2 separate regions of the Homo sapiens genome follow, and region 1 is linked to region 2. Evidence: fine-mapped expression QTL. Tissue or cell type: testis. Region 2 holds a variant in brackets; the other region holds the start of a gene. All regions are shown on one strand. Distances are from middle to middle.

Region 1 (8,000 bases), 30 kb before region 2:
ACTCAGAGTGCTCCAAATCTCTTATTTACAAACAACACTGGGCAGGATACCCAAACAAACAAACAAGAAATAACTTACAAAGGCATGAAGCTGTTTATTGACAGTAATCAGCTTTCATCAAATTAAAAAATATATATATGTACATACACAGTTAACGAAGGCAGGCCAGAAAGAGTTCATCTGTAGGCTCAGCCTCGCTCTCACAAACCTCCCTCCTGCCGCCCCTCCCCAACCCTCCCCCCGCTTTGTGTTCTTAAGGAGTACTACAGAAGCAATCTACAGTCTCTATTGCAGTTTGTAACCCCCTCCCCCTCCCCCCTTTAATACTGAATGAGATCGAATGTTAGGTCCATGCAGTTCTTGGTCAATGTTAACGAAAAGTCCAACGTTCCGTTCGCGCGGGGACAGCCCGTCCGCAAAGCGGGGCAGCCCGCAGGCGGCCGCTCCCTGGCTCCACGCCAAGGGAGGGCGCGCCAAGTCCTTCCCACTCGTGCACACTGGGGGCGCCGTCAGGACGCAACCCAGTCCAACTTGGATACCCTTGGCTTTAGTTCTCGGACACTTCTTTTTTCTCTCCGTCGCAACTTGTCAAGTTCTCAAGTCTGTCTCTCTGTGTTATTTTTTTTCTTCGTTGCCCCTCAGCCCCCGACGGTCTCTCTTCAAAATGTTTGCAACTGCTGCGTTAGCATGAGTTGGCACCCACTGTTAACGTGGTTCATGACTTTCTGTTTAAGCTGTGCCACCTGTTCCCTGAGCATGTTGGCCGTGGACGCCAGCTCCGAGTTCTGAGCTTTCAAGGTTTTCACTTTTTCCTCCAGCCGGGCGATTCTCTCCAGCTTCCTTTTTCGGCACTTGGAGGCAGCGATGCGGTTCCTCATGCGCTTCCTCTCCGCCTTGATCCGCTCCTGGGACTCCATGTCGATGGGGGACAGGGGCGGTGTCTCGCCGGGCATCTCGGGCACTGTCTGAGGCTCCTCCTTCAGGGCCTGCAGCCGCGGGTGCTGCACGGGCATCTGCTGGGGCAGGTGGTGCGGCGGCTGCTGCTGCTGCTGGGGTTGCGCGGGAAAGGCCAGGCCGGCCGCGCCGTAGGAGGGCGCCCCGCCGCCGCTGCTCAGCGCGCCTGGGTTGAAGTTGCTGAGGTTTGCGTAGACCGGCGGCTCGCTGTGCAGGCTGGCGCTGAAGCCGCCGCTGCCGCTGCCCCCTGCCACCGAGGCTACCGCGGGAGCCACCATGCCTGCCCCGTTGACCGGCTGCGCCGCCGACGTGACGCTGGGCAGCGTGTTCTGGCTGTGCAGTTCGGCCAGGGCGCGCACGAAGCCCTCGGCGAAGCCCTCCTGCTCATCTGTCACGTTCTTGGGGCACAGGAACTGGGTGGGGGTCGGCGTGGTGGTGATGTGCCCGTTGCTGGACTGGATTATCAGGCGCTCCAGCTCGGGCGACGCCAGCTTGAGCAGCCCCACGTCGGGCGAGGTGAGGAGGTCCGAGTTCTTGGCGCGGAGGTGCGGCTTCAGGCTCCCCACTGGGTCGGCCAGGTTCAGGGTCATGCTCTGTTTCAGGATCTTGGGGTTACTGTAGCCATAAGGTCCGCTCTCGGACGGGAGGAACGAGGCGTTGAGGGCATCGTCATAGAAGGTCGTTTCCATCTTTGCAGTCATAGAACAGTCCGTCACTTCACGTGAGGTTAGTTTGGGCTGCGCGCACAAGTTTCGGGGCCGCAACAGGGCTGTGGCAAGCGGGGGACACCCGCGCCCCCCGGAGCCTTTGACAGGGAAAGTTTCTCTAAGAGCGCACGCACCCGCTGGCTGTCGTCCCCGCTGCGCCCTCCTCACCAGCTCGCTCCAGGGAGCGCAGGGTTAATTAAGATGCCTCCCGCACTCTTACTTGTCGACTCGCGCGCGCTACCCGGCTTTGAAAAGTCGCGGTCACTCACTGAGCGCTCTTCGTGCGCAGCGGTTCCTCGGAGTCCGCAGGCGAACTCACTTCCCAGAGCAGCGGCTCTCCCCGCGGAGCGGATCAGTGCGGACCCTGCAGTGGCCGGCCGGCGGCGGGTCTTGGCCGCCCGGACTCCGACGACTTGTCCCCTCCTCCGCTGCTAGGGGGAGGGGGCGCCCGGCAGCCGCGGCTCGCGCTCGCCCAAGTTCAACAACCGGTGCGAGCGAAGCTGAGCGCACGTCCTTCTTCTCTTGCGTGGCTCTCCGCCGCCTTCTGGTCTTTACCGCCGTGGAGAAGCCTAAGACGCAGGAAAGGCTTGCAAAAGTTGGCTCCGGGACTCTGCCACTTGTCTCCGGTCCTCCCAGCCGGGAAAGTTCTTTGCTGCTGCAGCCGCTCGCCGACTTCCCCCGGCGGGCGCGTGGGTACCGCTGCTTTCCGCCGCTGTCAACAGCGCCTGGGCAGCAGGGCTCTCCTCCCGGGGGCGGCTGGAGACCAGGCTCTCTGGACACTCCCGAAACACCAGCCCGGGAGCCACAGGCGCTAGCTCTGGGCAGTTAGAGAGAAGGTGAAAAGAAAATAAGATTTGCAGTTCGGACTATACTGCCGACCTGGCTGGCTGGCTGTGTCTGTCTGTCTGCCTGACTCCGCGCACCTCCACTCCCGCCTCGCTGCTTCAGCCACACTCAGTGCAACTCTGAGCCCTTATCCAGCCCGAGCTCAACACTTATCTGCTACCAGTCAACCCCTAAAAATAGCCCATGATGTCACCCCAAGGCCTTCCCATTGGCTCGCGTCGCTCTCAGGGGGGCGGGCCCGCCCGTCACCATGGAGACTCCACCCTAGAAGATTCTTCTCTGGGCCCGCGGAGGCTCACGGGATGAGGTAATGCTCCGCTGCCCTCCTACAGTCGGGCCCTTCTTTCTCCTACCCTCCCCCCTGCCGCACGCCTCTCGGCCCTCTCTTCCCCGGTCCCCTCCCCGGGCCGTTTTTCCCGGCCCGCCCGGTGCATTGTGGGCTGACGTCTTGGGGTTTGACTGTCTAGTGACGGTGGCTGCCGCGAGCGGGCGGACGCTCGCAACCTCTGATGGAGGGGGGCTCAAGTTCACGGCTGCGGACGGGGATGCGGGGGATGCAGGGACCCGGGAGGCCAGGGAACCTGGCCAGTTGTTTTGGGCCAGGGGTGCGGGCGAGGGGTGGTTGTTGTTTCCCCACTTGTGGGGCCCGAAGTCATCCACCGGCGGCCGCCACCGCGCGGGGCTGGAGGCTGAGAATCCAAGTACGCTGCCACCCCCCCGCACTTCCGGGGGGGCGGGAATACCGCCCTTAAGGTGGCTCTGTGAAGTCCCAGGTGGGGGCGAGCCTAAGGGGACTTAAGTTTAGGGGCGGTCTCCCGAGAGTCGGCCCCCCACGTTGAGAACACTCCGAAGTTTGCATCTCGGTCAAGTTCAGGAGCGACGGTCCGCGGGGTCGTCTGGCTGCTCGTAGAAGCCGAGAGATTTGTATTGCCCGAAACTGGACGCTCAGCTGAGTCTCCGTTGCACCCCACTTCATCCTCCGGGACCGTGGGGGAAAGGGCGCGGGGGTTCACAGCTTTGCCTCGGAGGGGCAGTTTTTATAGTGGGCGCAATTGGTGGGTAACAGGGTCCAGATGGGAACAAGCGTGTAGGCGATCCGAAACTCGGGGAACCCCGGTGTTAGTCTACTCCCCCTCCCGCCCCCGGACAACACGCACACGCTTAACACAACACGCACAACATAACGCGCGCGCGCGCGCACACACACACTCCATCCGCGCCGAGTTGCTTCCGGGAAAACAAGCCCAGAAGGCGGCGGACACTCGCATAAAGTCACGCAGTAGTACTCGGAGCCCGGGGTAGAACCTGGACTTCAAATCTCTGCACTCCCGGCCGGGTGGTGGGCGCATATCCTGGGTAGCCTCTAGGAAGCGCTAGACACATGTAAGTGGTTCCTTTTCCGCGGTTATTTTATTCTCCCCCCGCCCCCCACCCCTTAGGGACGAAAGTGTGTGGTGGAAAGAATCCCGAAGTCGGGAATCCTGGTTCTTTCGTGGCCAGGCTACCACAGTGTGAAGCAAGCAAATCACGGAACTCCTCCGAGCTTCATTTCCCTCATCTGCAGGTGGGGCCGGTGCCGTCCACCTCACTGGGCTGCCAGGAGTTAGTGTGACAGGGTCGCCTGCAGCACTAGGGAGGTGGTGGCCAAACAGCCCGCTTCCCTCCCCTGCCTCGCAGTTTCCATCCTCGCAGAGCCTGGATAGGATGCCAGGATATAAGAGTGCGATTTGGCAGGACCAGGTGTACTTTCCTGTGAGAAGCATCGAGGGGAGGAGGGGAGGGGGAACCGGGTTAGAAGTCAGATCTTTCCCAAGCCTCTGTCTAAAACTGGGGCTTGAAGTTGGACCTGCAGCAGTTTAAGTTCCTAGGTTCTAAATTCAGACTTCGCTGCTTCTGAACTTGGAATTCAGCCTTGGGTTCATTGCCCCCAGCCCTAAGGTATTTGCGGCTTTGAGTGTTCAGAAACCAACAGCAGCTGGTATCAGTGGGAAACCTGCCAACTTTTCTTCACTCCGGGCACTCACCTAGCTTTCACTGATCTGCAGAGGGTAACTGAAAGCCTACTGTGAGCCAGGCACTGAGCTGGGGAGGGGGTGGGGTAGGTAGGTATACAGTGATGACAAGATCCAGTTGCTTCCTCAAGGAGAGAACATTCTCCTCTGTCTGTTGCCCTGAATCATTTTCTGTTGTATTCAGGGAGTTGGTGTTCTAAATATTTTTTAATAACAGTAATAAAAATCAGTTTCATGTATTAAACACTTATTATCTGCCAGGCATTCTCCTAAGCAATTTAAATACGCTGTTTTCTCCCCACAACTGTCTTGAGAGACATATATTATTATCCAGATTTAACATGTGAGGAAATAGGCCCAGAGAGGTTAAGTATCTTTGTTGAGGTCACACAGGCAGCTGGAAATTGACCTCAGGTCTGTGTTACATTCCTTTGTATTTTCTCTACTCTGGCAAACTTTCTTGTGGAGTATTAGTTATCTGCAGAGGAAATAGCGCTTGTGGCATAGAAGAAATTTTCTTGCCTGATCCTCTGACTGTAACTCCGTTCAGAGCTCTTGTATTTAGAAATTTCAAGACTTAGGACTTTGCATAAATATATATCTTTTGCCTAAGGTTCTGTGTGTTCCTCTCTGCCTCATGTGGTTTAGTAGGCTGATCTTCTCCTTATGTTGAGAAATAGCATATTTCATCCAAAAAAATAACAAATCTGTTCATGTTAACGCCCCTGCTTGGAAGCCTTCATTGGCTTTTCCTTACAATCAGGAGAGTTCCGATTCCTATGCCTTGGAGAAGGGGCTTTTCACAATCCAACTCCTTCTCTCTCCAGCCTTATCTCTCACTCCCAGTTCTGTCAGGAAAGGCAGTGTTATGCTGCCCTAACAAACAACCCTAACATATCAGTGGCTTATTCCAGTGAAAGTTGGTCATTTCTGCTACATGACCGTTGTAGGTTGGCAGGGTAGCTCTGCTCATTGTAGTCACTAAAGGGCTCAGGCTGAAGGAGGCCTCGTGTTGATACCCCTTTTCACAGCTATCCTGACTGTGGGGAAGGAACTCGGAACATCATGGCTGTCAGAGCATCCACTTATGGCACACATCACTTCTGCCCATACATCATTGGCCAAAGCAGTCACATGGCCATGCCTCTTTAGATCACTATAATCCTACCAGGTGTCTCAAAGGGCTCTCCAGGAATATTTGGGGAATAACACTAAAGACTCTGTCTCCCTTTCTGTTCACCAAATGTTTGGTCTACTCTCCTTCCCCTGGTGGAATTCCCTCATTCTTTATTCAAGGGAAACAACCTTAAAGACCCATCCAGTCACAGCACCAAGCTGCCCTGCCCATTGTTTTCCATGACTCCTGGATTTGCCCTCGGAGAGTCTTCCTTTTCCACAGCTAAAGCAGGCATTGGAAAATATGCTTTTAAATAAGCTTTTAAAAGTTGGGGAGATGCAGAGTGACATTAAGTCTTGAATATGTGTAGGTAGGCTTCTTATCTATCTGATATGAGGTGTTCCATGTGACAATAGCCACAAAGTTCTTTTCCAGACATACTTCTTTGGTTTGCCATATCTCTTTGCTTTCCTGCTCTCCTGCCTGTTGACTCCTCTGTCTCTCTTTTGCCGTCTCACTCTCTTGCTCTTCACTTGATTTTGAGCACTTTGGGCTTATTGGGTTTTGATGGGAGAGTTAGACCTTTCTTCCTTTTCCCAGAGCCATTTTGTCCAGTTGAAAGTATATACTGGGTAAGATCTTAATTGATCCTTTTTTTTTTTTTTCTGAGACGGAGTTTCACTCTTGTTGCCCTGGTTGGAGTGCAATGGCACAGTCTCGGCTCACTGCAACCTCTACCTCCCGGGTTCAAGCGATTCTCCTGCCTCAGCCTCCTGAGTAGCTGGGATTACAGGCATGCGCCACCACGCCCGGCTAATTTTGTATTTTTAGGAGCGACAGGATTTCTCCATATTGGTCAGGCTTGTCTCGAACTCCCGACCTCAGGTGATCCGTCCTCCTCGGCCTCCTATCCTGAGGTTTTAATAGTAGGTTCATACTTTGTGACTTGATCCTTACTTCAAAGCTTAGTTTCTTCCAGGTCCTTTCTTGCTAAAAGTATTTCTTGATTTTATATTTTACCAGTCGGGACTGGGAAACAATTGCCTCTTCTAACGATGTAAATCCCTGGATTTATAGGTTTTCTCTATTCCATTTCATTCCTGATTGCAAACAGGCCAAATTTTTCTGAGTTCATCTTTGAATAGCTTGTAGTAACTTTCAGAATGCATCCAACAGCCACCAACACACACTACTCACTCTCTGTTTTACAATCCTTTTCTTTAGTTCATCAGGTTCATGATCTGCCTTCTACATTATCACAGGTGATATGTTTACCAAACAGATCACCATCCCTTCAGCTTCTGATAGCAGTGTTCTTAGTTATCGCCCTCTAAATGATTGTTTAGTTTTATTGTTGTTATGCTTATTGTTGTTATTACACTAACCCATATCTAGGAGCCAATTTTTATATGAGTCAGGATGGTTTAGGTTATGCTGCCATAACAAACAATCCTAAAATTTCAGTGGCTTAAAAATAAATTTTATATTTTGCTCATACTACATGTTCAACTTCACGGGGCTCTGCTTAATGTGCTCATTTAGAAACCTAGTCTGAAGAAGGTTTCATCTTGATACATGCTTCAACAATCATCGCATCAGTTTGGCAGGGGAAAGAAAGCATGGTGAACTCACATTGGCTTTAAAAGCTCCCTCCTAGGAATGACACTTTTTATTGTATTTACATATTATTGGCTAAAATTAGTCACATGGCCATGCCTTACTTAAAGGGTGCAGGAAAGTGCAATCCTACTAGGTACCCGGAAGTCAAAGAGCTGGAAATGCACACCTCCATATACTCTAGGTTATGCTGTGTTAGCCATCCAAAAATCTTACTGGGTTACAATCACAGAATTGTTTCTCACTCATATTGCATGTCCACTCATATGGTTTGGTTGTGTCCCCACTCAAATCTCACCTTGAATTGTAATAATCCTCACATGTCAAAGGTGGGGTCAGGTGGAGATAATTGAATCATGGGGTCAGTTTCCCCCATACTGTTCTCATGGTAATGAATTAGTCTCATAAGATATTATGGTTTTATAAATGGGAGTTGCCCTGCACAAGCTTTCTTGCTTGCCACCATGTAAGATGTGCTTTTGCTTCTCCTTTGCCTTCTGCCATGATTTTGAGGCCTCCCAAGCCATGTGGAACTGTGAGTCCATTAAACCTCTTTCCTTTATAAATTTCCCAATCTCAGGTATGTCTTTATTAGCAGTGTGAGAACAGACTAATACATCCACCATAAGTTGGCTGTGTCTCTGATTTACACACATGATCTTTGCTCAAAGACCTTGGTTAATGAAGCACGCTCTTTCTAAAACATTACTGTTATTGGCAGACAGAAAAAAGCATAGCCCTTAAAGC
Region 2 (8,262 bases):
TAGAGATTGTGGGGTCTCATCTGTATCCTGTCAGAGGGGTAACTGAGGCCTAGATGGGATGTGAGGTCACAAAAGAGTTGGCTCCAAGCCATGTCAGGAGGCTGGATGGGGAGGTGGAAAGAACCTGGGCTTAGGAGTTGGAGAGTACTTGGGTTTGAAGGCTGTGGATCCTTGGGTAAATCACTTAATCTCTCTGAATCAGCTTTCTCATCTGTTGAAGAGACATCACAGTGGTGGCATCTGAAAGATGTCATGAGGTATAATGTGTCTTGGACACCTAAAATCAGGACCCAGGACTAACTATAGACCTGATAATCAGTATTTATAATTATTACATTATTAGGACCCAGGTCCTATTTCTGTGCAATGTTGAAAGATAGTGATAAGAACAATTTAGATCAGAACTTACAAGTTTGCATGATCTTCATTATAAATGAAATAGTGAAACAATGCTGAGCGGATTTACAGAGGCGTAACTCATTCATTAACCAGCTTAGACAGGCATTTTCCCCCCTCTTTGGGATTGGTTTTCTCTTCTGTTAAATGGGGATAATTTTTATGCTCAACCTCTTCTCATCCATCTATTAAACATTTATTGAATGCCTATTAGGAGTCATAATATGCTTAGTGCTGAGGACACAGGAAGAGGACATAGTTCCTGACCCTAAGGAGCTCATTACCTAGTGGGACACTATTAAACAGATACAACACAGAATAGTATGTATAGAGCATGGTATGTAGCAGGGGCCTATTCCTGTCTGAGTGGACAAGGAGGCTTCCTAGAGGAAGCAACATTTAAAGCTGAGGGCTGAAGGATGAATAGGATTTAACCAAGTAAAAGTAAGAAAGGAAGTGGGGAGCTGGAAAGGGCATTCCAGGAAGAAGAAACTGCATGTGCAAAGGCCAGGAGGTCAGAGCGCACAGTGGATATGACGATGTGGCTAGCTGAGCATGTCTGTGCAGTGTCAACTTTGTTGTGAACACAGAGGGAGGCTACTGGGAAATTTTAAGCAAGAGAGTTGGAGTATGATCACATTTGCATGTTAGAAAGAACACTCAGGGTTATATGCACTTGAATGAAGTTTTATTATGGAGAGCAGTTGGAACAAGTCGATTCTTTCCTCCTCCTCCATCATCCTCCTCTTTTCCCTGTCCACATAACATGGCTCACATGAGATAAAATAACCCACACAAGCATGCCTTGTGTAATGTCTGCCACATAGTAGGTGTCCAATTATCATATAATTCCCCCCTTTTTAAATGTAGTTCCTGAAAGAGAAATCCCCTGGCATGAAGCACAAGTTGGGGCAAAAACGGTGAGGGTGTGGCTGTTTGTATCTTCTGGCTGGTGTTTGGGTATAGCCGACAGGATTTAGGTCAGAGGAAGTTCCCCAGACAGTTCAGCCTCAACCAGTCATCTGGGGTTTCAGGGAGGGCAGGTGAAGGTCATAATATCCCCCTATTTCAGGAGGCCACCCCTCCCCAGGATCCTGATCTTGAAATGTACCAGACATGGACCATTGCGTTAATTTGTCTGGGTCGGCTTCCTCATCTGTAAAATGGGTATAAGGTTACCTGTGCTGTCAGCCACATGGGGTTGTTGTAAGAAACAGAAAAGTGTGAACCACCACAAAATAATATAAGACTACATTAATTAATGGCTACCCTGGGCTGGGCCTTGTTCTGTGAAGTAGATATTATCAATTATCCCTATTATACAGATAGCAAAACCAAGGGTCAGAGAGATTATGTGAATCACCCACAGGCACAGAATAAGTGGCTGTAGCTGGAGCGCTGGCATTTTAACCACAACACTGTGACACCATGACTTGTTCTCCTTTGAAAACCACCTCCTGCTCCCTGAGCTCTTAGCTTGATGCAGTACTCCAGAAATGAGTGTAGAAAGATGGAAGAAGGAAGGAAAGGGGCAGTGTTTGAAGTCTGAGAGTCTTTCCAGATGCCTCCCTACTCCTCACCCCACCAACTCAGGGTCTTCTTCCAGATGCACTCTGGGAAATGGCTCATGGCATCCTCTTAAAATGACCTGTTACCTGACTCCTCATTAGATGGGGACACGTGGGGGAAGGGACTGTTTGGTTTGCGTTGGTATCCCCAGGGTCTAGTACAATGGCTGGCACTCAGTAAATGTTTGTGAATAAATTCCTCCTGTCATTGTCTGAATTTTCTGCCCATGCTGTCCTCTTGGCCAAGAGATCTAAAAGCAAACGAGCTGGGGCTTCTGGAAAGTCTTCCAAGGTCAGTGGATGCATGTGTGATGGAGGCCCAGCAAGAGGTCAGTGTGTTGCCCTGGGGCAAGCCTGCAGGATGGACCCAGAGGGCTGGGGTGGCCGGCTTCATCCAGCTCATTTTTCCCAAGGGATCTGGCGCTCACAGGCTGCACATAGAGCCCACGTGTTGTGTTGCGTGAGGACCCCTAAGGATTTGTTGAGTGGTCCTAGGTGCTCAAGTCACTGTACCTGCAGGGTGGCTTGAGCTGGGCCCACCTGACTGATTGGCTGGTCAATAGGTGGCCTGAGAACCAAAACTAGCCTCCAGCACATTGAGCAACCGGCTTCCTTCCTGCCCCGGGTCAGGAGCTGGGCCAGGGAAAGTGAAGAAACCTGTTTGGGGCCTCGGCAGGGTGGGCGTGGGTGGGGCCCTGCCGGGAAAAGAGGCGCCTAGACCAGTTAGTTTCCTTTGCTCCAGGACCGGATGCGGAGCCGGGACTCAGGTGGAGGCAGGAGAAATACGCACCCTGGGTGCACCTGTAAGTCCTCCAGGACTACATTGGTTTTGGCTATGACATGACCAGGGGCTCTGGGTCGGTGGTCACCGGGCGTGGGGCTTCTGGCTGCTAAATCAGGAGAGTGAGCGGGCCGGGCGGCGGCGAATGAGTTGACGGGTGGAGCTGGAAGAGGCTTTGGCGATCCAGCGGGCAAGCGAAGGACACCGCGGGAAGGGGTGGTACCCGGAAACGCAGCTGGGCAGTCGCGCCGCTCCCCTGTCCTCGCCAGCGCGCTTTCTCTTCCTGGCCCCTGCGCCTCCTCCGGGCCCCGCGGTGGCGTGAAAGGCGCTCAGGACAGACTTGTATTTGAATCCAAGCTGTTCCACCCACACGCTTTTGTTCTTGGGCGAGTGACTTCTATCTGACCCAGAGTTTTCCCAGACGAAAGTGGGAAGACGGTGCCTACCCCAAAGCGTCGTGGGAATGAAAGTCAATGAAGTGACATAGGAAAGGTGCCTAGCACATGGCAGGTGCTGAGCAAAGCGGGGTTCCCTTTCCCTTTGTTTAGCCCCAAGATCTCACTCCTAGCCCTGAAGTCGCGCCCCAAAGGCAGCCCCAGGACGGCGGGGTCTGGGAGGCAGGAGGCCTGGCCTGGCAATAACTCATTTGAATCATTTGATCCTCAAATGGGATGGGGGCGAGTGGGCGGATTCTGAGGCTGCCTTTGGAATGCGTTTC[T/A]GTGATCCTAGGAGGGAATTTCAATGCATTCTTCCATTCACGTATTTATTTATTCACAGATTCCTATCAGGCGAAGGCCGCCTTTCCTGGCCTCCCCCACAGGCCCGCCAGCGATTCGTCCTTACAAGGCTAGCCTCCACGGGCTGCCCTCTGTGTAAATAAAGCCACAGACTTCCGCCCACAGGTCGCCGCAGGTCCCGCCCGCAGCGCCGGGCCGCGGGGGAGGCGGGAACTGGTGCTACGGCCGCTACGCAGGCCTCGGGAGGCTCGGAGCCCGCCACGCCCCAGCCCTCTCGCAGGGCCGGGGAGCCACGGGGCCAAAAGGAGGAGCAGGTGGAAGAAATCCAGGCTCAGACCGTCGGAGTCCCCACCCATGAGCACCCTTCTCCACTGATCACTCAGAACATGGTAGGCCCTAGAGAGACAGCAGCCCGAATCTTCCCAGAAACCCTGCAGGAGATTCCTTCTTCCCATTTTATAGAAGGGAGGCTGAGGCTCGGCACGTTGAAATGGCTTGACCAAGGTCCCACAGGCAAAAAAATGGTACAGCAAGATATTGTAACCCAATATCTGGCTGCAAAACCCAGTCTCTCCCCAACCCACCTATCGTCACCGAGATTGTAAAACTTCTAACCGGGAAGAATCAAATACATGCACAACGGGTTACAGGTTAACAGACAGATGGGAGCGGAAAGGGACATTCCAGCGCTTCCCTGGGCGTGTCGCACAGGGCAACTCCAACCACAGGCGAATTTTCCTGGGTGACAGTTAAACTCCTTTTTGCATGAAAAAATACAGATTCTTATTAAAACAATAATCGATTAGACTATAAAACTCTCAAAGTTATTTCGGATCAAAATTATTTTCGGCTGTTTCCACACCTTTTTTTCTCGATTGTGCAGAAATTCTTCACACCGTCTGCACAGATGGGCAAACTGAGACCCGGACGAGTCCCATTGAGAGAGAGAGGCAGAGCCGGGGTTGGGAGAAGACTGAGATTTCTGGGATCCGGCTTGGGGTGTTTCCGCTGGGTGGGGGCGCCGGTTTGCGAAGAGCTTTCCTCGGACAGCTACTGCTGATTTTTGTCGCTCAGCCAGCCAAGTGGGGGCGATTCTGAGTAATCGCAGGCAATCAGCGCGGCTGGGGTTAAAAGCGAAAGGGACTCGCGGGCGAACGGCCGGGGAGGGCGGCGGGCACAGAGCCCAGACGCCGGCAAAGGCGGGGCGCCGCCGGGGTTCCCTCGGTGCGAGCGCGCGCGGCACTTCCTGCTTTTGCTCCTCCCTGCGGTCCTGCCGGCCGTTGTAAACTGGCGCTGCGGGCCACACCCGTGTTCCAGGCCCGCTAACCCACCGGCGGCCCCAGAGCCCCAGGCGGCCCCAGAGACCCAGCCTCAATCCTCAGTCCTCGTACAGTCCTCAGGTCCAAGTTCTGGCCATAGGAACGCCAGCCAGATCTGCAGCTCAGCTAGCTGAATTTCAGGTTCCAGAGACCTGGCCCTTTTCTTCCATGTAGGGGACAGTCAGGTTCTCTGGCCTGGGTTTTCTAAAAGTACCCAGAGTTGAACTACCTTCCACTCAGCAATCCCATTACTGGGTCTGTACCGAAAGAAAAATAAGTGGTTCTTCCAGAAAGACACATGAATCCCTATGTTCATCGAAGTGCTATTCACAATAGCAAAAACTTGGAATCAACCCAGGTGCTTGTCAATGGTGGATTGGATAAAGAAAATATGGCTCATACACACCACGGAACACTATGCAGTCATAAAAAGAATGAAATCGTGTCCTTTGCAGCAACATGGATGCAGGTGGAGGCCATTATCCTAAGTGAACTAATCAGGAAAAGAAAATCAAATACCACATATCCTCACTTATAAGCAGGAGCTAAACAATGGGTACACATGGACATAAAGGTGGACATGATAGACACTGAGGACTACTAGAGTTAGTGGGAGAGGGAGCAGAGCAAGGGCTGGAAAATTACCTCTTGGGTGCTATGCTCACTATCTGAGTGACAAGCTCAATTATACTAAAAACCTCAGCATTAGGCAATATACCTTTGTAACAAACCTGCACATGTACCCCCAATTATAAAATAAAAGTTGGGACGGGTGCAGTGGCTCACTCTTTTAATTCCAGCACTTTGGGAGACAGAAGGGGGAGGATGGCTTGAGGCCAGGAGTTTGAGACCCACCTGGGCAACAAAGTGAGACCTCATCTCTACAAAAAATTTAAAAATTAGCTAGGCATGGTGGCGTGCACCTGTGGTCCCAGCTACATAGGAGGCTGAGACAGAAGGATTGCTTGAGCCTAGGAAGTCGAGGCTGCAGTGAGCCATGTTCCTGCTACTGCACTCCAGCCTAGGCACTGGGCTGGACACCGTTTCAAAATAAAGTAAAATAAAAGTTGAAAAAAATATATAAAACAAACAAAACAACCCACACTTGACATTTGCTGACTATATGGCCTTGGGAAAATTACTTAACCTCAGTCTCAGTTTCTGCATCTGTAAAATGTGAGTTACTGACACTTACCTCATATAATTGTTGTGAGAAGTAAATATGTGCCTATCTGTAAAGGCCTAGAACATTTGAAAAAAAACTAATTAAATGCTATGTTTTGTTATTAGTGTTAGTTAGGCCTAGGTAGGAATCTTGTTTAGGCCACTTAAGAACTGGATGACCAGGCAGGTGTACTTTCTTCAGTTTCCCCACCTGGAAAAAGGAGTTTATTACACTTTATGTCACAGGGTGATGGTGAGGTCCCCATTATCCAGCAATTCCACAAGTGATGATGTTTGCAACTCTTACTGTTTGCCAGCACTGTCTTAAGCATTTGACCCTTATTAACTCATTTAATTCTACAATTACAGTATGAGAGAGGTATTAAGAGCATCCCATTTCACAAATAGGAAATTGAGGAACGAAGAAGTTAAATGACTTACCCAAAGTCACACAGCTACTAAGTAGGACTTGAATCTACAAAGTTTGGCTCCTTATTCCATATTCTTAATTCCTGCAGGATGTATCAGACACAATGCTAGGCAATGGGCATGCAGCCAGGAATGATACCACACACAGCTGCCTCCTCAACAAAGGCAAGGGGTTCCTTTCTGAGCTTATTGGCATTCCTTATATATGATTAAGCATTGCATGCATATGCTATATTTTATATAATAAGGTGGCTTGCACACCGTAGATATTCAAGATTGTTGGTTTCCCTCACTGTAATTTTTGGGGGTCCAGTTCCAAGTGCTTACATGGAATGTGGAGGGAGGTTAGGTTTTAAGTGATAGAGAAGTTGGTGTCTAATAGATGCTCCACATACCTAAGTTCCCTCGTCTGTGTACTTAGTGATCTTCCAGCTAAAGAGAATAAAACAGCACAGGCTTAAGGTTTAGACCTTTTAACAATAATAATAATTACTTCTGCCTTTGCAGAGTAATTCTGTTTCTGTAGAATTATGTCTGCACTGTGGGGTTCCCAGAATTGAGGGTAAATTTACTGTATTTATCACTTAATCATTTCCAAAACAGCTTATGACTATGGCATCTTTAGTCAAAGGCCCAGAATTCTCCTCCTACCCTCTGTCTTTGGAGTCCCCGTGGTAATTTTTGCTGTAAATGGCTAAAGCTATTAAATATAGTGTACATCTTCCTGCCATGGAAATATAAGCTGTCATTACATTCATTGCTTAAATGTTGTGATTATTTCAAACTTGGCTTTTGTATTTGAAGCCTTGAGTTAAATGTGGAAAGTAAGGGAGAAAACGGATAATGGTTAGAAATAAAAACGTGCAGTGGATAGGTTTCCAAAGTAATAAAAAGCCACTTTAAATTTCAAAAGATTTTAAACCTGTGTAGTTCCAGACAGAATACCCTAAATTCCCATCAAACATTGTGTCTCTATTCTGAGGGTCAGAACCGCCTTGAGGCAATTCAATGAACTCAACTGACAACAAAGAATTAAATCATTAATTTCTGCTTGTAAAAGAGATAGCCTGTGGACAACACTCAGCAGATGGTAGGTATTCACAAGGAAACTATTATGATTAGAGACAGGGATATGGAGAGAACAAAGACAGTATACTCAGCTGACATTTATTGAGCACCTACTATGTGACAGTTGCTTTCAAATCCATTATTTCAAATAAACCTCAAAATAAGGCTATGAGGAAAAGATCATATTATAGAAGAGGAAACTGACACTCCAAGACGCTTGTTAACTTGCCGAGAAAGTGAGTGGCAAAGTCTGAGTTGGAAGAAGTTGGGTCTGACTTCAAGTTCAGTATCTGATTCGCTGCACCTCTCTGCTTTTTCCCTGTATGCCCAAATGTCAGTCATTTTAGAGCTGGAGGTGAGGATCAGAGGGGACTTTAAGATCGCCTCACCCAGAGTTTCTCTGCCTCTTTTATAATCCAAGTCACCCTAGATAAACACAAAAACCTTACATCCTCTTTTAATGAGTTTCAAATTCAAAATAAGCAAAATATCATGATTCAAAACAAATCAAAGCAAGGGGACATTTTCAGTATTTTGTTTTGAAACAAAACAAGTCTTTCCAGCACTTTTGTTTCCAGCTCCGTGCCTCCACCAACCTCACTGGAGAGCTGGTGATCCTTTGCCCCCCTCCTCCTAGTCATTGACTTCCAAGGAAGTTGAGCTCAGAGCGGACTGACTGACTAGCTTGTGACATGGTCAGCTCTTGAACTCAGGTCTGCCTGACTCCAGTGTGGTATCTTTTCTGTAAACACCCTGCTTACTTCATAGCCTGGTCTCTTACTGAACCCCAGCTCACAGTC

Alleles and levels. Alleles are on the strand shown, and positions count from the first base shown. SD is a standard deviation of normalised expression in the study named.
In carriers of allele A in region 2, the expression in testis of the gene that starts at base 3,736 in region 1 tends to be lower than with T alone (moderate effect, 0.50 SD a copy in GTEx).

What was found. PIP is the estimated chance that this variant, and not a neighbour inherited with it, causes the effect.
Region 1: JUN-DT starts here. The variant in region 2 is fine-mapped to the expression of JUN-DT in testis (GTEx, PIP 0.95).

The regions. Positions count from the first base shown.
Region 1 is chr1:58,781,416-58,789,415 of GRCh38, forward strand. JUN-DT (JUN divergent transcript) reads left to right here and starts at 3,736. Exons shown (of 2, transcript NR_108106.1): 1 at 3,736-3,890. JUN (Jun proto-oncogene, AP-1 transcription factor subunit) reads right to left here and starts at 2,632. Exons shown (of 1, transcript NM_002228.4): 1 at 1-2,632. The coding sequence starts at 1,655. The coding sequence ends at 660. RefSeq lists silencers at 429-604, 992-1,071 and enhancers at 742-921, 2,330-3,077, 2,592-2,851, 3,078-3,823.
Region 2 is chr1:58,811,746-58,820,007 of GRCh38, forward strand. All of the region lies in intron 1 of JUN-DT (JUN divergent transcript), which reads left to right. LOC101926907 (a long non-coding RNA gene) reads left to right here and starts at 2,695. Exons shown (of 2, transcript XR_246327.5): 1 at 2,695-2,767; 2 at 3,523-4,297. RefSeq lists enhancers at 2,183-3,179, 3,180-4,175 and silencers at 3,617-3,816, 4,629-4,778. The variant T/A (reference allele first, on the strand shown) is at 3,464.